Linked DNA regions of Homo sapiens. The protein of the gene in region 5 purifies or fractionates together with the protein of the main gene of each other region. This does not show direct contact. Each region holds a gene or a part of one and is shown on either strand. Other genes may lie near its edges.

What was found.
Region 1: the proteins of VRK2 (region 5) and DHX38 purify together in Homo sapiens (affinity purification with mass spectrometry; one large-scale study listed by BioGRID and IntAct). This does not show direct contact.
Region 2: the proteins of VRK2 (region 5) and RCBTB2 purify together in Homo sapiens (affinity purification with mass spectrometry; one large-scale study listed by BioGRID and IntAct). This does not show direct contact.
Region 3: the proteins of VRK2 (region 5) and EIF4G3 purify together in Homo sapiens (affinity purification with mass spectrometry; one large-scale study listed by BioGRID and IntAct). This does not show direct contact.
Region 4: the proteins of VRK2 (region 5) and NUP210 purify together in Homo sapiens (affinity purification with mass spectrometry; one large-scale study listed by BioGRID and IntAct). This does not show direct contact.

Annotation. Positions count from the first base shown.
Region 1 is NC_000016.10:72,103,829-72,107,349, reverse strand, and holds part of DHX38 (pre-mRNA-splicing factor ATP-dependent RNA helicase PRP16), read right to left. Parts: intron 3,405-3,521; coding exon 3,219-3,404; intron 2,865-3,218; coding exon 2,724-2,864; intron 2,324-2,723; coding exon 2,213-2,323; intron 2,119-2,212; coding exon 2,002-2,118; intron 1,834-2,001; coding exon 1,726-1,833; intron 1,346-1,725; coding exon 1,233-1,345; intron 11-1,232; coding exon 1-10. UniProt on the Homo sapiens protein: Probable ATP-binding RNA helicase. Involved in pre-mRNA splicing as component of the spliceosome.
Region 2 is NC_000013.11:48,530,261-48,534,558, forward strand, and holds the start of RCBTB2 (RCC1 and BTB domain-containing protein 2), read right to left. Parts: upstream 2,821-4,298; 5' UTR 2,768-2,820; intron 1,790-2,767; exon of another isoform or gene 1-1,789.
Region 3 is NC_000001.11:20,935,898-20,939,397, forward strand, and holds part of EIF4G3 (eukaryotic translation initiation factor 4 gamma 3), read right to left. Parts: intron 1-3,500. UniProt on the Homo sapiens protein: Component of the protein complex eIF4F, which is involved in the recognition of the mRNA cap, ATP-dependent unwinding of 5'-terminal secondary structure and recruitment of mRNA to the ribosome. Functional homolog of EIF4G1.
Region 4 is NC_000003.12:13,329,807-13,333,327, forward strand, and holds part of NUP210 (nuclear pore membrane glycoprotein 210 precursor), read right to left. Parts: intron 2,579-3,521; coding exon 2,487-2,578; intron 829-2,486; coding exon 654-828; intron 1-653. UniProt on the Homo sapiens protein: Nucleoporin essential for nuclear pore assembly and fusion, nuclear pore spacing, as well as structural integrity.
Region 5 is NC_000002.12:58,088,306-58,091,826, reverse strand, and holds part of VRK2 (serine/threonine-protein kinase VRK2), read right to left. Parts: intron 3,487-3,521; coding exon 3,381-3,486; intron 2,197-3,380; coding exon 2,104-2,196; intron 1-2,103. UniProt on the Homo sapiens protein: Serine/threonine kinase that regulates several signal transduction pathways.

The DNA.
Region 1 (3,521 bases), on a different chromosome or scaffold from region 5:
GGTGTAGAGCCTGCCGGGGAGAAGACCCCATCTTCTCACCACAAGGAAACCCCACAGCAGCCAGTACAGATGAAATCCCACAGGGAGGGAGGAAATTCTCATTTCTTCTCCCCACCCACTACTTCAGTGAATCACTGACTTCCACCTATTCAAAACTCCAATCTGCCAATTTAGCCCTTCTTCTGGAGCCTCTTACATGTTTCATTTCTTTTTTTTTTAGACAGAGTCTCACTCTGTTGCCCAACCTCTGCCTCCCGGATTTAAGCGATTCTCCTGCCTCAGCCTCCCGAGTAGCTGGGACTACAGGCATCCGCCACCACGCCCAGCTGATTTTTGTATTTTTAGTAGAGATGGGGTTTCACCATATTGGCCATGGTGGTCTCAAACTCCTGACCTTGTGATCGGCCCGCCTCGGCCTCCCAAAGTGCCAGGATTACAGGCATGAGCCACCACACCCAGCCATCTGTTTCATTTCTAGAACCAATGGGCCTGGGACTAGAATCATGGCTGGGTTTTATTTTCTTGATATTTTTCTATATTCACTAACGCTCTATAGTGAATACATTAATTTTTTTAATTGGAACAAAAAAGGGGAAGAGAGCCAGGCAGAGTGGCTCACACCTATAATGCCAACAGTTTGGGAGGCCAAGACAGAAGAATCGCTTGAAGCCAGGAGTTCACAATACCAGCCTGGGCAACATAGCAAGACCCCATCTCTACAAAATATGAACAAATTAGCCAGGTGTGGTGGTGCCTGCCTGCAATCTCAGCCCCTTGGGAGTCTGAGGTGGGAGGTTCACTTGAGTGCAGGAGATCAAGGCTGCAGTGAGCTGTGATTGCACCACCACACTCCAGCCTGGGGTGACAGAGCAAGACCCTGTCTCTAATTGGAAAAAAGAAAGAAAGAAAATGGGGAAAGAGAACAATAGAAATAAAAAGAACCAATGGCATCATCTGTCCAGACCTACCCTCTGAAGGGAGGCAGGCTGTAATTACCTGCATGTGTACCTACATCCACGTAGGTTGGCCTCAGACCTCTGAAATCCCTGGAAAGCCACTCCTTCCTTCCACTCAGTAGCATAGGATGAAAGGACTAACAAGTGGCAGCCCTGCCAGCAGCTTCCAGCCTTGGGGACCAGCTCTAGAGCCAGCATCCTGCCCGCCCCCGCCCGGGCTCCACGCTCAGCAACCCCAGCGCTGCCCCAGAAAGCAGGCTAGCACAGGGCTCCTACCTGAAACACTGACCTGGGCCCGTCCTGCCGGCTCGCCCTGACCGCTGGTTGGCATTGGCCTGGCTAATGGGATAGATCTGCAGAGCATCCATGCCAATCCTGGGGTTGAAGACCTAGGAGGGGACGGCAAAGAGCTGACGAAGGACAGAGTGAGGGGAAAGTGGAAGTAGGCCTGAGACAAAGGCAAGCCCTGGTTGCTACACATGGCAGAGGAAGAGCCAGGAGGCTCTAGAAATGTTCTCATGAACACCTGAAGAAGTCTTCCCCACAAACACCAGCTCTCTGAGCTCTACTGTTAAATTATCTACCTCATCGAGTATTACAAGGGTTAAACAAACCAAGCACAGTGAGTCAATGTGAGCCTCCCACCACCACCACCACTTCCACGCGCTCCCCACATCCCAGGGCCAGGAGCGAGGCCCTGGCTTCCCACCCCGCAGCTAAGTTAGCTTCTGGTGAACACCCAGGCCTTGCCTCCCATGTCTTCTCTTACCTTTAATTTGCAATAACCAGAATCGATAACAAACATGATGCCGTCAACAGTGAGAGACGTCTCGGCAATATTGGTGGCAACGATGCACTTCCGAACGCCATCTGGAGCCTAGAGCAGGACATACAGGAAGGGAAAAATGAGTCCCTCGAGACAGGAAAGGCTCCGCGAGGGGGAAAAGCCTACCTCCTAGCCCACCCCCTGCCAGGACAGTCACATCCCCTCTCGCTTCCTTTAGAGAACTCCAAGAGCCACTCCTGGACATTCCTGCTGACACACCTTCTGGAAGATTTTGGCCTGGAGGTCAGAAGGCAGCTGAGAGTAGATGGGCAGCACAGCCAGGGCAGGCGCGTTCTCCAGTTCCTCCAGATGCTCCACAATCTGGTCTGAGGTCACCTGAGAGCCCAGGGAGGAGCTGTGAGACACTGGAACCCTAACCTCTCATATGCAAGACACACCCGCTCATCACAGTCGTGACCAAGGCACGCACCTCAATGTCCTCTTGGCCAGGCATGAAGATAAGGATGTCTCCAGGGGCCCCCGACAGGTGCACCTGCAAGGACTGCTTCACTGCAGCCTCCACGTAATCCTCCTGTGGGGTCTGCAACAGCAGTGGGGACACAGTCAGAGGGAGGTACTAGAAGCGCAGGCCGGGCATCTCCTGGGAGCCCAGTGGCCCAGGCACTGCTCTGGAATGGAGCCATGGACTTTGAGGGCCACCACACCTCCACATGGGCCTGACTGCGAGGCCTCTACAAGAGGGCACAGTGCCTCCCTGGGCCCTGTACTTCAGCCTCAAAGAAATAATGAAACAAAACCTCACCCAGAGCAGAGTCCTTTGTCCCCGAGTCCCAGAGCTGCAGGCTGCCCCATTTGCCCCATGGTCCCCAGGAAATCTTCTCCAACCCAGTCCCCTACCCACCCTCCACCCTCCAGCCGGCTTCGCATCAGAGAAGTGCGTGGCATGGAAGGGTCAGTTCGTAACATGGTGGCCTCAATACCTTGCTGAAGAGGATGTCAACAGGGAAGGTACGGCCAGGGATGTGGAAGATGGGGACATTCCCAAAAAAGGCAGCAAACTTCTCCGCATCCATCGTGGCTGATGTGACGATGAGCTTCAGGTCTGAGCGCCGAGCCACTACCTGAGAGAAGAGGCGGCTCGGAGGCCCCCATGGTGGGGACCCTTGGCTCCTGTCCCCCAGTCCCATCAGCACCACCCCCGAGGAAACACAAGCCAAAGCTGACAAATGGGCCTATTCAATTCTTACCAATCATGAAGACTGAAGCAATGGAGCCACTGCCCAGAAAACCCCAAGCCACCCTCAGCAGAGCAAGAACAGCATGAACTACAACCCGAGTCTGAACTGCAACCAGAGGCCTCAGGAACCTCTGGCCTACCAGAGACCCCCTCAGCCCACCTGGAGCAACCCACTAGCTACTGGTGGTGCACTGGTCAACACCCCATGCGCAGAGAGACCAAACCACACAGCCCTCACCTCCCGGAGCAGCCCAAAGAGCACGTCAGTGTTGAGGGAGCGCTCGTGGGCCTCGTCCATGATGATGGCACTGTAGTGATCCAGGTCGGCTTCCCGGAGGGACTCTCGGAGCAGGATCCCGTCAGTCATGTATTTGATCAAGGTGTTCTCTGAAGTGCAGTCTTCAAAGCGGATGGCATAGCCCACCTGGAGGTCAGAGAGATGGCTCAGATGCCCTGGCCACCGGCTCACCACCAGCACACCCCGTACTGGGGTCCGAGTCTTAGCAGATCACACCCTTTAGCAAAAATGGGTGGAAGCTAC
Region 2 (4,298 bases), on a different chromosome or scaffold from region 5:
ATTTTACTTTAACCAACTGATAAAACCAAACTTGAATATGACAATTTCATAGGGCATAAGCAAATTCCATGGACTCCTTACATTTATGGTCCTAGATTAATAATATTTTGGTGTTTGAACAGAGTATTTGTAATCTATGTAAGTAAAGGACATGAGGGGAAACACACTTTACTTTCTAAAATTATTCCTCTCCATCACCCTCTTTCTCTAAGCCTTCTTTAATTATGGATTGAAATTTAGTTAGGTCTATCTGGTTCATTCAGATACCTGTAAGAGAGGTCATTTATAGCATAACATCACACCAGGTGATTTAAGCTCCTCTCCTACACAGTTTCAAATACAGAAAAGCAATGACCATTCTTAGAAAAGATCTTCACTAGTCATCCACAGTCAGAGGGACATTTAGAAGCAATTGCAAAAACTGTGGAGACAACGTACAGTTTTTCTCAGCACAATTTACATAGATGTCTGGCTAGCTCTTCCTTGTAAAAGTCCAGTGTCTTCATTTGATGTGCTAAGTTAAACTGTAAACTCCTGAATAATTTGAACTCTTATTTAGGAAAAAAATGTTTTTTCACCTATATACTATAAAAAATGGTGACGTTTATCACAAGGGTCATGCCGTGGGCTCCCATAAAAGACATTGTAGAGCACGATAAAGAACGTTTTCTCCCAGAAGAACATTTATTTCTAAAACCCAGTTCCCCATGTTAAACATCACCTTTGGTTTATCCTTCAGACTCACCGTACCCATGATGTTTAAAATTGCAACCCACACCTGCACTCCCAATTCCCTTTCTCTGTTCTCCTTTTTCATTTTTTCATAGCATTTGTACTTTTCTAACCTAATATACAAATATGTTTTTTATCATTCTTTGCTAGAATGTAAGCTCCAGAGGGAAGGGATCTTTGTCTCTTTTGTTCATTGATGCATCCCAAGCATCAAGGACAGGACGTGATAGAAAATCAATTTTTGTTGAATAAATGAATGAATCTAGGTTGAGTTCAGTAAAAAAATATCTCTGGAGTAAGTTAGTTTCCAATTTTATTTCTACAATTAACAAATACCTTCTGAGCTTCAATTATGGTGGAGATAGATTGATCATACCCTTACAAATATATAATATCAGATGGTGATTAAGTGCTACAAAGCCGAACCAGCAGTACAAGAGTTTGGAGAGCCAGACATTTTAGGTGAGGTAGTCACCTCTCTGAAATGATGGCAATTGTTTCAAGACTTAAATAAAGTTCTGTGCCATGCAGATTTGCGAAGAGTGGGAAAGTGAGCATTGAGCATACTGGAAATACCAAACGCAGACGCCCTGGGATGAGGGTCCGCTTGGCGAGCCCAGCAAGAGCAATAAGGCCTGAGTGGTGGAAGTGGGGTATGCAAGAACGTATCATTCTTGTTGCTTTTACCTGCTGCTTAATAACACGCATGTACTGTCTAGCAGGAAATAAAGAGATTACGTTTCACCTAGAATACTCATTCTCTGAGCCTAAGTGGCTCTTCTATTCCAGCCCCCAAATATCTGTATCAGCACATCATATAAGATTACAAAGCACAGAGTAATGACATTGTTAGAAACTCTTCACAGTAGCCCCAGGAGTCACGAAACTGACTTAACTAAGACCCACTGTCTAGTAAGGTGTAAAACCCAGCAGGAACGCAATACTAGGAAGGTGCAAAGCCAGGAGGCTCAATAAACGTTAAACAGTGTCTGGGGGAAAGAGCAACGATCCAGAGCACTGTTTGTGAACTCAACCACTTTTATTCAGCTCTGACAAGGTAAGTCGCCAAGCGCGGTACAAAGTAGCTCCATGAAATGCGTTTTGTTATAGTCCTGGTCTCGAACTGTTGCAACATTTTATGTAATTTTTGCAAAGAACAAAAGCAAAAAGTTCATTCTAAATTAGCCTTCCAACTCAGTTCTTTCTCCGCCAAGACGGAGCACTTGGAAAGTTTTCAATGTCTGAAAACCTCTATTTCCAGGGCTGAGCAGAGCACTATGTTGCGGCTTAAGACGCTCGGCGATTTCTTCCCATCCCTCCGCAGTTCCAAAACGGCTTCGCCTAACAAAGTCAAACTTTTCGCGCTATTCCTGGACATCAGGACCAAATGTCGAAAGCATATACTGCCACTGAGTTAGTGAGCCGGGCCGGTGCCCGGGACCTGGGGTACTAGATTTATGGGACGGGAGCCTAGGGGTCGAGGCCACAGAAATGAAAACATCGGCAACATATGCAGTGCAGCGAGTGGGTTAGGAGGGAGAAACTTCAGGCAGGACGCTCCCTCGGGACCTGTGACGCCCCCCCAGCCACACCAGACGTGGGAGCTTAGGATGAGAGCGGCCTCCGAGCAGATGATCACCCTGGAACGACGCCAAACGCGACCCCTACCAGAGGACTCGCGCATGCGCAGCGCAGCCTGGGCCGGCGGCCTGGGCAGGATGTAGTCGCGAGCAGCGCACCGGGCCCACGCCAGCGGAATTGCGCATGCGCAGGGCCGCCTCTGCCTGCGGCCTGGGCTGGGTGTAGCCCCGGAACCTAGCTCTTAACTCCCGCCAGCAGTTTTACGCATGCGCGACGACGCCTAGGCCTGTGGCACGGTCGCGGCTCTAGTCCCCTGGGCCCCTCAGCTGTCTCTGGCGGGGAGGTCGGGCCGCAGGGGCGGGGAGGGGTGGCCTGCCCCAGTGGTACCTGACAGCATCCCACGTCACGGCCGCGATCCCCCTCGGCCTCCCACACCACTCCTCCACCCTCTTACCTCCTCGCAGGCCGGAGCCTTGTCCGCTCCGCCTCCTGGGTAGCGGTTACTGCACGGTCAGGGGCCCGGCGCCGCGATGAGTTGGCGCCTCCCCCTGAAACGGCCCGGCCTCGGCGGGATGCGCTCGGGTGCCCGGCCGAGACGGAAACGAAGGGAGCGCAGACAAGAGGAGGGGGCTGGCGACGGCGTCTCGCCCCTCCTCTCCTCCCTAGGCTGCCCACCGCCGCCCCTCCCCTTTCTCGCAGACGCCCCCTCCCCTCGGAGTTGACCCCCGGGAGTCTCCCATTGGGGCCGCCTCCGCTTTTCCAGGGAGTTCCTCCGTGGGTCACCCCCACCTTCTCCAGGGTTATGTTCTCGCAAATTTTGGGAATTTGTGGATACCCGACCTAGAAGGATAAGGCGTGTATGATGCTGAGAGCAACCTTTTCCACAGCCCCTCTCCTCCAGCCTGCCCCAGCTTTTCTTCTATTGCTGGCCCCTCTATCTGGGGGCTCCGATCACTTCACGTTTTCACCCCATTGCTGTGGGGCGGAAGTCTTGTAGCCCCCTGTAGTACAAATGCTGAAATAATGAGGATGTGTGCTGGGGGGTTCAGGGGGATGACCTCAGTTACCTTGGGGCCAAGGGCTTCGAAAACAGCCACCTTCTCCCCTTATGATTATATTTTGCAGTAATTTATTATATTACACTGCACTTCTGTTGGCCTTTGTAGATTTAAGTAAAATGCACCACAACTTTGCAGTGTGCAATAATTTCTTCCACTGCACTACACTTAAATTGACCTGAGTGGGTTTTGGTTAAATGCTCAACAATTAAATGTTATTAGCTATTCCTGTGAAGTAAGCTACTTGCTTTTATACTGGCTGTTTCATGAGGACACTGGTTCCTCTACAGTGTAGAGCCAAAAGTAGTAAAGCCAAAGAGAAAAACTAACATTCCAAACCACAGTGACCGTGTCAGTCTGTTTCGTCTGGCTTTTGTCATTTCTTCGGAAAAACATCATTCTAAAATGTATAACTGCCTTTCTGCTACATAGGGCAGACATTTATCTCTATTCTCTGAGCATAGCCCACTGAGCCTCAGAAGGAGGCACGCAAAATGGTACACAGGTATTTCTTGTAGAGCTCTAAATGGAAGAAAAAGTAAGTATACATTAACAGGAAGTTGCAGCGATAGTGCAGAGAGGCATCGTGTGCCTGCCCCAAGTTTCTCCACTGGTTACATCTTATCAATGAAAGAAATTTATGAGTTAAACAGGTTTGCTCTCAGAAAAAGCTCACTTCAGTGATGATAGCTGGCATTTTTTTTTTAAGCACCTATTGTGTGCCAAGAGGTTTATCTTATTTGGAGCTCACAATAATCCTGTAAGGCAAGGATTATCCTTACTTTACAGATAAGGCAACTCAGGCCCCAAGAGATTAAGTTTCTTTCATCAGCAACCATGGCAAGATCTGTTTGCCTTGCGCACTTGGTCTTTTACGCATTATGGACAGCTGAAGTTCATGCAGGCCTTACGGTGTGCTTCAGCTGA
Region 3 (3,500 bases), on a different chromosome or scaffold from region 5:
CTTTGTCATGGAGGAGGATTAGTTACTAAATGTGGGGAAAAGGGAGCTACATTTTGAACAAAGTATAACTACTCAGAAAGATGTAGAACTAAGTTAATACCCAATGACTGAGACTTTAGGGCTCATGATGAAAGACATGAACTACTGTAAAAAATGGGGAAATCTATCCCACATAAAGAGGCAAGGAAGAACTACGTAAGGGACTTGCCAACAGGCTCAACTAACAGGTGTCTGGGCTCATTCTGCAGTATATAAAAGAATTTGACCAGCATCAGTATTTTCCAAGGAATGCCTAAGAGTTTACTGGGGAGGGAAACAAGAAAATAGGAATGGGATGGCAGAAACATACCTTTTAGGCAGCTTTGTTGGAAACAGTTTACAAACAAGGTGGAGAAAACCTTTATTTATCCCTAAGGATCACTCAGACTCAAGCCTCTGAAAACTGAAGCCAATGGTCCTTGCTTTAAGGATCACTCTGCTTGTTTTGGTAGATGACAAAGAACCAGGAATGTGTAAGGAGTCCTGTTTCCATGTTTCCAGAACACGTTTCTGTAGAAGCTAAATTATAAGGATGCATAGTAGTATAGTGATTAGGCCAACAGGATACTCAAACCATTGGCAATCTACTTTTGGCCCCAGCGACTAAATCTTCCAGAGATATTTCAAATATATTTTAGAATATGTAAGTTGAGCAAAGGTTAGAATAAATTTTATTATTTAAAAGATTAGTCATTTTTAGTTTAATCTAGGAAAACTGATAGACTTTTATATCTCTGGTTTTATGTTTGCTATGTTTATTTCTTTGAAAGTACTCTGAATACTCTCACAGTTGAGAATAAAGCAAGGGTTGTTATTAAAATATTTTTCTTGCACTGAAGTATGCTCCCTTTACACTTCAGTAAGTCTAAACTAAAAGAGAAAGCAGCAACTTGATTGGCTACATGGATCAGTATTTTGTTAACATTACCAAAACATATAATCGTATCTCCATTTGAGAAATAAACTTCCTATGTTATATTCTACAGAATCTGGAAACCCTTCTACATCCTTAGCTGAGCTTACGAGAATATAAGGTAAACTACAGGTCAGTGGCTGATGCCATCCTTACATTCCTGGGGGTGTAGAAGGGTGTGCCAGTCTCTATAACCAATGAATTTGTATTTTTAACACCCATAAGAAAAGAGAGATCTTGGATCCCTGCAAAGTGGGAACCTGGAACTGAGATGCTCACATAAAGCTCTGAGACTCCCAAATGGGTGACATGCTCAGTGAAAAGATAGCTTAAAAAAGAGAGAGAGGGAATAAACCACTGAACCAACACAGTGATGATGAGAAAGGACGTTGTTTCAACTGGATGGAGAGAAGATTGCTGTTACCCTGAAAATTAGTATCCAAGCCATACGGTATGGCTGTCCTTAGGCTTTGGGATAGAACTGTAGCTTTAGGACATTAAACCCAGATTTAGTTCTAACAAACATTAAACCCAGATTTAGTTCCAGCAAATGCTTTCCCCAAGACATGCAGCAGATAAAGTAAACACAAATCTGCTTTAGAATAACTTGCCATCAATCTACATCCAGGAAAATTTATCTGGATAAGTTCATAAAACAAACTTACAAAATATACATTAAAAATGTACTATAAGCAAGAGCCAAAAAAACAAAATAAATAGAAAAATTAGAAATCTCCCTCTGCCTAAGAAAATTTAAATAATGGTTTTATATCTGATACAGGTAAAAATAATAAAATAAAAAAGTCACAATTCTTTTAAAAAGTGGGAAAGTTAATGTTACATACTATACATCATATACATTCCTAAAATTGTAGAAAACAAACTCCTGGATGATTAATGGGGAATGCTTTCCCACAAGTTCAAAACACTCCTTTTTCCTCCCACCAGATACAGAGAATAAACAATAAAAATTCCCAAGACTTTAATATATCATCCAATTAATATCTAGTTTTATGCATTTAATTACTAAAGTGACGGTGATATTAAAAGTGTGGCCAATAACTGAGGCTTTTCAGAGTACACTGAAGATATATACACACCAAATTCTAATTTTACAGAGCTTGTTCTTCAATCCGAAAACAACTGATGCTTTCTTTTTTTTTTTAAGATGGGGTCTTGCTCAGTTGCCTAGGCTGGAGTGAAGTGGCGCGATGTTGGATCACTGCAGCCTCCATCTCCCAAGTTCAAGCAATTCTCCCACCTCAGCCTCCAGAATAGCTGGGATTACAGGCGCATCACCACTCCTGGGTAATTTTTGTATTTTTAGTAGATACGGGGTTTCACCATGTTGGCCAGGCTGGTCCCAAACTCGTGACCTCAGGTGATCCACCCTCCTCAGCCTCCCAAAGTGCTGGGATTACAGGCATGAGCCACCGCGCCCGGCCTCAACTGATGCATTTTTATTCACTCAGAAATATGATCTAGAATAGTTACAAGAAAATGTTTTGCAGCAGAACTAAAAGATACCATATCCCTTATGTTATAACTTTACTGCTTTAACCAACTATCTCTATACCAACTGATATGTTATTTATGTATCAGGTTTCTGAAGCCAGCTTTGAGGTGTTTCATCCTCAGGCAGAGACAAGTAAAAACTATTCTCAAAAGTCACCACCAAAAGACTCATAGGCAAACCAGACTGTTTTGGTGTTACAATTTATTAACTTCTCAAAGTAAACGGCTGTTATGATTTACTAACTTCTCAAAGTAAACAAGGTATAATAAGTGAATATTATGTGAATAAGTGCAAATAAATTATAGTCATTAAGCATATGACCACGTCAGGTGGATATACTTAAAGACTGGAGGTAATTTTAATTTTCATTGTTAACTTTTGTGACAAAACCATTAAAAAATATTCGGACAGAAATGAATGGGTCAGAAATGCTTCTGAGGCTTTATAATTTACAAACTGCTGGCCAGGTGTGGTGGCTCATGCCTGTAATCCCAGCACTTTGGGAGGCTGAGGCGGGCGGATCACAAGGTCAGTAGTTCGAGACCAGCCTGACCAACAAGGTGAAACCCCGTCTCTACTAAAAATACAAAAATAAGCCAGGCGTGGTGGCACACGCCTATAATCCCAGCTACTCAGGAGGCTGAGGCAGGAGAATTGCTTGAACCTGGGAGCCAGAGGTTGCAGTGAGCCGAGATTGCACCACTGCACTCCAGCCCGGGCGATGGAGCGAGACTCCATCTTAAAAAAAATTAAAAAAAAAAAAAAAAAAAGCTAGAGTTGCAGGGGTTCTTGAAGTTCATTTACTGTTGGATTTTGAAGACTATTAAGATGTACAAGGAAATTATAAAACTTGTAATTCCCTTAAACACATAGGTTAAAAAATCAGGAGACTAGAAAAATGCCAAGAAACTTTACCTCCCAACATCACAAACCTCTGTTATTCCAAGTCATTAAAAAAACAGTTCTTTCTTTTCTAAGTGCTCTCTGGATTACCACTGAAGAGTCTATACTCTTTGATTAAGGTGCTGGTGT
Region 4 (3,521 bases), on a different chromosome or scaffold from region 5:
AGGTCCCATCCGTAAGGAACACAGAACGGCAGAGGGCAGTGCCATGATATGGCAGAAGGACACGGCCCAAACCAGACAGACCCCATCACTCAACCCCCATGCAAGCTTAAGCAAGTCACTCTCACTCTGAGCCTCAGTCTCCTTGTCTGGAAAATGGGCCACCTCATTCTCAAAACCACAGTGGATGTCACGTACTGGATGTCACGACTTGTATGGCAGGTACTGAGCACAACATTCAATGCTCTTAAGAACAGACCATGTTCCAGACACTGGGCTGGCCCAGAACAGGAGCTCCACCATGGGTGGTGATAACATCAGTGGCCAGGCACAGTGGGTGGAGCACCCGCACTCCAGTCAGGAAGCTGTGGTGCCAGTCCCAGCTCTGTAACCTTACGCCAATCATGGACCTTGCTGGGCCTCATCTATGAAATGAAGTTCTTGGAATCAATGATTTCCCAAGGATCTTCGGCTCTGATGACCAGAAGATGCTGTAGCTTTTTATCTACCTAGGACCTTTGCCCCTGAGTTACTCTAAATGCCTGTCTACAGTTTCTTAGCTGGAAGGTGAACGTATTCACTTTTACACCTGAGAGGCATATTACCTCAGTGCTATTGCTTTCATTACTCCAAAAAGGAGGAGAATGCAACCCTACCTTTACAGCAACAATGATGGTTTGGTTGGCCCCAAAGGGCTCTTGTGCAATCACTTCGATGGTGGATGTCCCGATCATAGACCCTGATGCTAGAAAGCCTTTCTCATCAACATGCACAACTGGAACCTTTTCGGGTCCATCCAGGACGCGGTAGCTCAGAGAGGCTGCACCATCCCTTTGGAAAACAAAACAGAGCTGTTTTTGTAGATGGCAGCAGTGGGAGTGGGCCTGGATACAATGCCAGGAGATCTAAGAGTCTGTGGCTCCTCATGCTCCTGGGAGGAAAAAAGGCCCAATCTTGGCCCCACGGACCTCAGGACCACGTGCCGTCAGTTGTCTGAGGCTTCATCAGTCACCCACGGAAAAGTAATTCAGAAATCCAATGGTTCCGAGCAAAGTGTGGCGTCTCACTCTTCCCAGAGCAGTGCCTGCCGTGGGTCAGCCAGCAGGGAGGGAGAGACTATGAGGGCAGTTTCTTTCATCAGCTCCATGGGACATCTACTGTAAAATATCATTTCTGCAGCAAATTGTTCTCAATTTACTGAAGCAAGGCATCCTGGCATAGTGGAGGATGGGGCTTTGAGTCCGACAGAATCCAAAGCCGGTCCCAACATGTCCTGCCACCAGCTGTGTGCACATTATGTCCCCTCTTCTCTCGGCGTTGACTTCTTACTTGGTAAAAGGTGTGTAATGATCCTGTCTTGTCCTATTTCTAAGGACTGTCAACAGGATAAAAACAGACTACCCGCTAAGAAAACTGTTAGCAAACTACTGATACTATGTACTGGGTAGGAAGCAAATTATGCCGTATCTGTTACCCTTTTACATATTTATTAATATAATAAAGAAACCCAGGAAGCAAAGGCCTCCAGCTCCCACGGCTAGTTTCCATCATCTCTGTCTCTTCCACAGCCCTATAGATGACTAGGAGCAAATGTTATTGCCTCTGCCTAAACATTCTTCCCCCACCAACCCCTTCCTCTTAACCTGGGGAACTCTTATTCATCCTTCAAGAACTGCAGCCCGAGCATCTCCATCTGGGACATGCCTCCCCTAAATCCCCATGGACAGCACCCTTCTTTGGGCTCTGGTTTGAATACTACACCTTGCTTTTTAATAGCCTTCTCCTGCTACCCTCCTCCGGGGCACCCTATGTCACCCATATCTGTGTTCCTGGAGCCCAGCATGGAGCCTGGCACTTTGTTACTTTTGGCTGAATGAAAACATGTATGTGTTTCATGCAACATGTAAGTGTCCTGTGGCCCGTGGAGTCTCCCGCTTGGCAACTGCCATTCAAATGCAAGCCACTGTTACGAAAGGCATCCCCTTGGAATCAAAGGTAGGAATTAGGTTTGCAGAAGAGCTTTAAACAGCTTTTCCCAAGCGTTACTGTGCGGCCCCCTCGCCTGGGGATCTCCCTAGGGTGCAGCTTCTCCCTGGGCAGGTCTGGGGTGGGGCTTGAGAGCTGCATCTTCTCTTCCCGGTGATGCTGATGCTTCTGGCTCATGGGCTACACTCTGAGTGGCAAGTCTTGAAACACAACATTTCTAAGCTGGTGTTTTTTTCCCTTTTAAAGACTGAATTTTAGTACCTCGCATAAAAATGTTTCTAGGCTACAAGGAGGAAAAAGAGACCCACAGTGAGAAGTGATTTCAAGAAGCAGAGGAGCACCACAGAGAAGAGAAGGAGCAGGCAGAGGCCTCACCCATTCCAAGCACAGCAGGAGAAAACCTCCCTGAAAGTACCCATGGCTCCTGACAGTGTTGACACATGAGGTGTCGGATGCAAGCACAGCCGCACAACTTTGCTGGAAACAAGAGCTGAGTCACGTACCTGTTTGTCTGCAGCTTTATATATGAGTTGGGCGACATTAATATTTGTTCTGCTTCTATTTCAGGGTTGAGCAGCTGCAGCTTCTCAAACACCTGCAAGAGAGGGCAAGTTTCACTTCCGATGGGGCACTGGAGTCACATTCAGGCCAGATGTCTGCTTCTCTCCTAGCAGCAAGAGCCGAGGAGGGGCCAGAGAGGAGAAAAGCGGCTTTCTCGTCTGTCAGGTCACTGATGACATGATGTGAAGGGCTGACCTTTAAGAGGCCAAAGGTGTGGCCGGGTAGAGTAGCTCAGCCAAGGCAACACAGCAAACCCTCAGTCTCTACAAAATAATTTTAAAAATTAGCCAGGCATGGAGTGTGCAACTGTAGTCCCAGCTACTTGGGAGGCTGAGGCTTGCACTCCAGTCTGAGCAACAGAGCAAGACCCTATCTCACACACACACACACACATGGCCAAAGATATGATGAGAAAAGACAGGCAGGCTCATGTTTGTGTAGTCTAATGGGAGCTCCTTCAAGGAGCCTGGAAACACAGGCCTCTCCCTCCGTGCCCAGTGAGGAAGAACTTTACCTGCCAGGATGTGAGCGCGGAGGGCAGCACACACAACTCCAGCACCAGGGTTTGCTCAGGATAACTGTGCCAGGACTGAGCCTGGGCAAGGTGCCACCGAACTGCTCCCTTCTCTCACAGAGACATCCTGCTCCTCACTGCCACCATCTCAGAACAACCCCCGTTCCACCTCCCAGGCTCCTCTGGCTGGCTCTGGCCATGTTCTTGCAGGATCCACATAGACACACACAGGGGCCTGGTGAGGAGCTCAGTCCGGCAAATGATCAGCCTCATGAGGTCGGCTCAGATCTGATCCTGGGACGCCCAAGTGCTCCAAGGCCCTGGTGGCTCCCCGAGCCCATGGCAACAGCACTTACCTGGGAACTCCAGGCCCCTTCTCTGCAAGACTTCAGATGTGTCCACCACCTGTGTAAGTCCCCTCTCTCAGGCCCCTCAGGGCTGCTGCCTCCTCGGCCTCCCAGCC
Region 5 (3,521 bases):
CTTCTCATTTTTCACAAAGGTAGCCTTTTTTCCTGTTTCTAGGACAGTCATATTCCTTCTCTGTTCTGTTTATTCATTCTTTTCGATCATCGCTTTAACAAGGTATTTAGTGTTTTTCTTAATTTTTTTTTTAGTACCGGCTAGATATTCTCAAATATTTGTTATCTATCTATTTCCCAGTTTCTCATTCACCTTTCATTTTGAAAAAATTTTTATTAAGAAATTTAACCAATGCAGAGATCAAATATTCAATTACATTTTTTCTAATTTTTTATAGACTCAATCATTTAACTCTTTAAACGTGATAATACAGTAACAACTAGGTATATTGTTATTTAAGTTTAAATTAAGTTAAATTAAAAATTCAGTTTGTCAATATTAATATTTTAATATTAAAAATATAATCTACATTTTTTAAACAGACTATATTTTTTAGAGAAGTTTTAGGTTTGATTTAGGTAAATTTAGAGCAATGTAGGTAAAACTGAGTGGAAAATACAGTGAGTTCCCATATACCTCAAGCCCACACAAAGTCTCTCCGCTATCAACATCCCTCACTAGAGTAGCACATTTTTTATAGTGAATGAACCAAGAATGACAATCCTTATCATCCAAAAGCCACAGTTTACATTATGTTCACTCTTGGTCTTGTCCATTCTATGGATCTTAACAACCAAATGATGACATGTATTCACCATTATGGTATCATGCAGAATAGTTTCACTGACCTAAAAATCCACTGTGCTTCACTCATTCATCCTTCCTCTCCCTTCTAACCTATGGAGATAGTAAAAAATTGATCTTTTTACTGTCTCTATAGTTTTGCCTTTTCCAGAATGTCATATAGTTGAAATTGTATAGTAACTAGCCTTTTCAGATTGGCTTCTTTTACATAGTAAAATACATTTAGGTTTCTTCCATGTTTTTTCATGGCTGAAAAGTTCATTTCTATTTAGCAATGAATAATATTCCATTATCTGGATGTATCAGTTTATCCATTCACCTACTCAAAGACATCTTGGTTACTTCAATGTTTTGACGAGTATGAATAAACCGACTACAAGCATTCACGTGCAGGTTTTTGTGTGGATGTAAGTTTTCAACTCATTTGGGTAAATACTAATGAGCACAACTGCTGCTTGGTATGTTAAGAGTGTCTAGCTTTCTAAGTAACTGCCCAACTGTCTTCCAAAGTGGCTGTATCATTTTGCATTTCCATTAGCAACAAATTTCCATGAGCAACAAATGAGAGTTCCTGTTACTCCAAATACTCATCAGCAGTTGGTACTGTACTGACCACGTTTTAAGTACTTAGCCACATACTGCTAATGGCTACCATATTGGACAGTCAAACAGAATATTTTCATCATTACACAAAATTTTAATGGAAAAGCTTGCTTAAAACTTTTTTTTTTTTTTTTTTTTTGAGATGGAGTTTCTCTCTTGTTGCCCAGGCTGGATGGAGTGCAATGGCACCATCTCAGCTCACTGCAACATCCGCCTCCTGGGTTCAAGCAATTCTCCTGCCTCAGCCTCCTGAGTAGCTGGGATTACAGGCACCCACCACCACACCCAGCTAATTTTTGTATTTTTAGTAGAGACAGGGTTTCACCATGTTGGCCAGGCTGGTCTCAAACTCCTGTCCTCAGGTGATCCACTCACCTCGGCCTCTCAAAGTGCTGGGATTACAGGCATGAGCCACCGCGCCCGGCCTCTCTGCTTAAAACTTAATTGGTTATACAGTAGGAAATGATGAACTAATATGACAGTGTTTTAACCTCTACATAAATCCATCTCTACTCCCACTGGATTTTGATGGTTCTTTGCTTATCTATATTTGCTCAGAAATTCAAATTCCTGCTCAGCCACTTCTTAACTGTGTGCCCATTAACATATTATTTAACCCCTCTGACTCTCAGTTTCTCATCCTAATTACTCATTAGTTTGGTACAAAGATTAAATTAGATAAGCAGGTAAGATAAATTACAACATTCATCATGTTACGCCCTCATTTGTAAACTCTTCTGGGTTAGAAGTTTGTTTTCTGAATGTTTCAGTTTCATACATTAAAGACCTTTATTAAAAGCAAAAGTATGTATTTACCTGGTCTGGATTTTTGTAACCCAAAAGTAGATTTGCTGCTTTTATATCACCATGAACATATTCATTTTCATGTATATATTCCAGTACATCCAACTGTGAAAATAAATAGATAAAATAAGGTTTACTGCTATTTAGAACTCATGATCAATTTCAACATTTTGAATATAGAATAACATGGGTTTTTTCATATTAACATTGACAAAGCGATGTATTTCACAATTACTGGTTAATTATTCTAAAATATCACATCTTCTGGTTGCTCATCCTAGAAAAAAGTAAAATGATCCTCAAAAATCAAGTATTTTAGTTGAAGTTCCAAAGGAAGAAAATCAAGATTCAAAAATGCTTATGCCTAATTCCTGATAGCCCAGTAGCCAAACCGCACTGCACAAAGAGGAAAAACATAGCATAAAATCAGAGATCTATGGTGAAATAATCTTGAAGCCCACTCAGCAATTCCTCACCTAAGCAATAATTATAAATCAAGCCTTGAGAATCTCAGAACAAAATGCCATGTCCATGAGCAAAGGGAAAGGTATTCTTCCTCTGTATGGTAATAGAAAACTCCTTAGCTTCATCTCTAAAGCCCTTCAGCCTTGCATGTTACATACACTTAGTACTCAATAAACATTTGCTGGCTTCGAGGATGGATAAATGAGAAAATTAATGCATTCTATTTGCTGCATTCCAATCTGGCATAAGCAGCTTCATGCTACTCAAAAGTGAAAAAATGAGACTTAAACAAACCAAATACAAACATATAAGACAAATATGTAGTATAAACAAATGTGTGCCTGAGTGCTATTAAGAGTTCGTTGCTTCTGCTTTGGCAAAGTATATTTTATTCATTGTCACAACTAATTATTGCCACCATCCCAAACTCATAATAAAAACTTCATAGCACCCCCCTACCATCACATGTTTAAAATGTCTGACAATATATTTTGCCATAATTTGCATTGTTATAACTGACAAAAGAAAGGTTATTCTTACAGCAATGAAAGCTTGTTCTGGTATGTAAAACAAAGCTCTAAGGAAAAAGAAGATCAGACTGGAGAACCAAAGCCTAATTGAGTTTGCAGTGCCATACACAGCACATTCTGTCACTTACAGAGCCCATTGTTATCAATTTCACCAAAATAGCCTCTACTCCTAATAACTGATGTCTCTAGGGCAATAATCCTTCATTCTCTAATAATTCCACAAAGGGAAAAGATTTCTATATTGCAAGAAGTAAACAATTTGGAAATGGAGCATGCGAAATAAGTAATTCTTACCATTCGGATACCTAATTGCAGGACAGTTGACTTTTTAAAGGTACCATTCTGGCCTGAGATCTTCTGTAAATCTATTCCTAGTCTTTCCATTACCATAAATCTGTAACTGTAAGAAAAAAGCATCAAAAAGAGATCATCCTG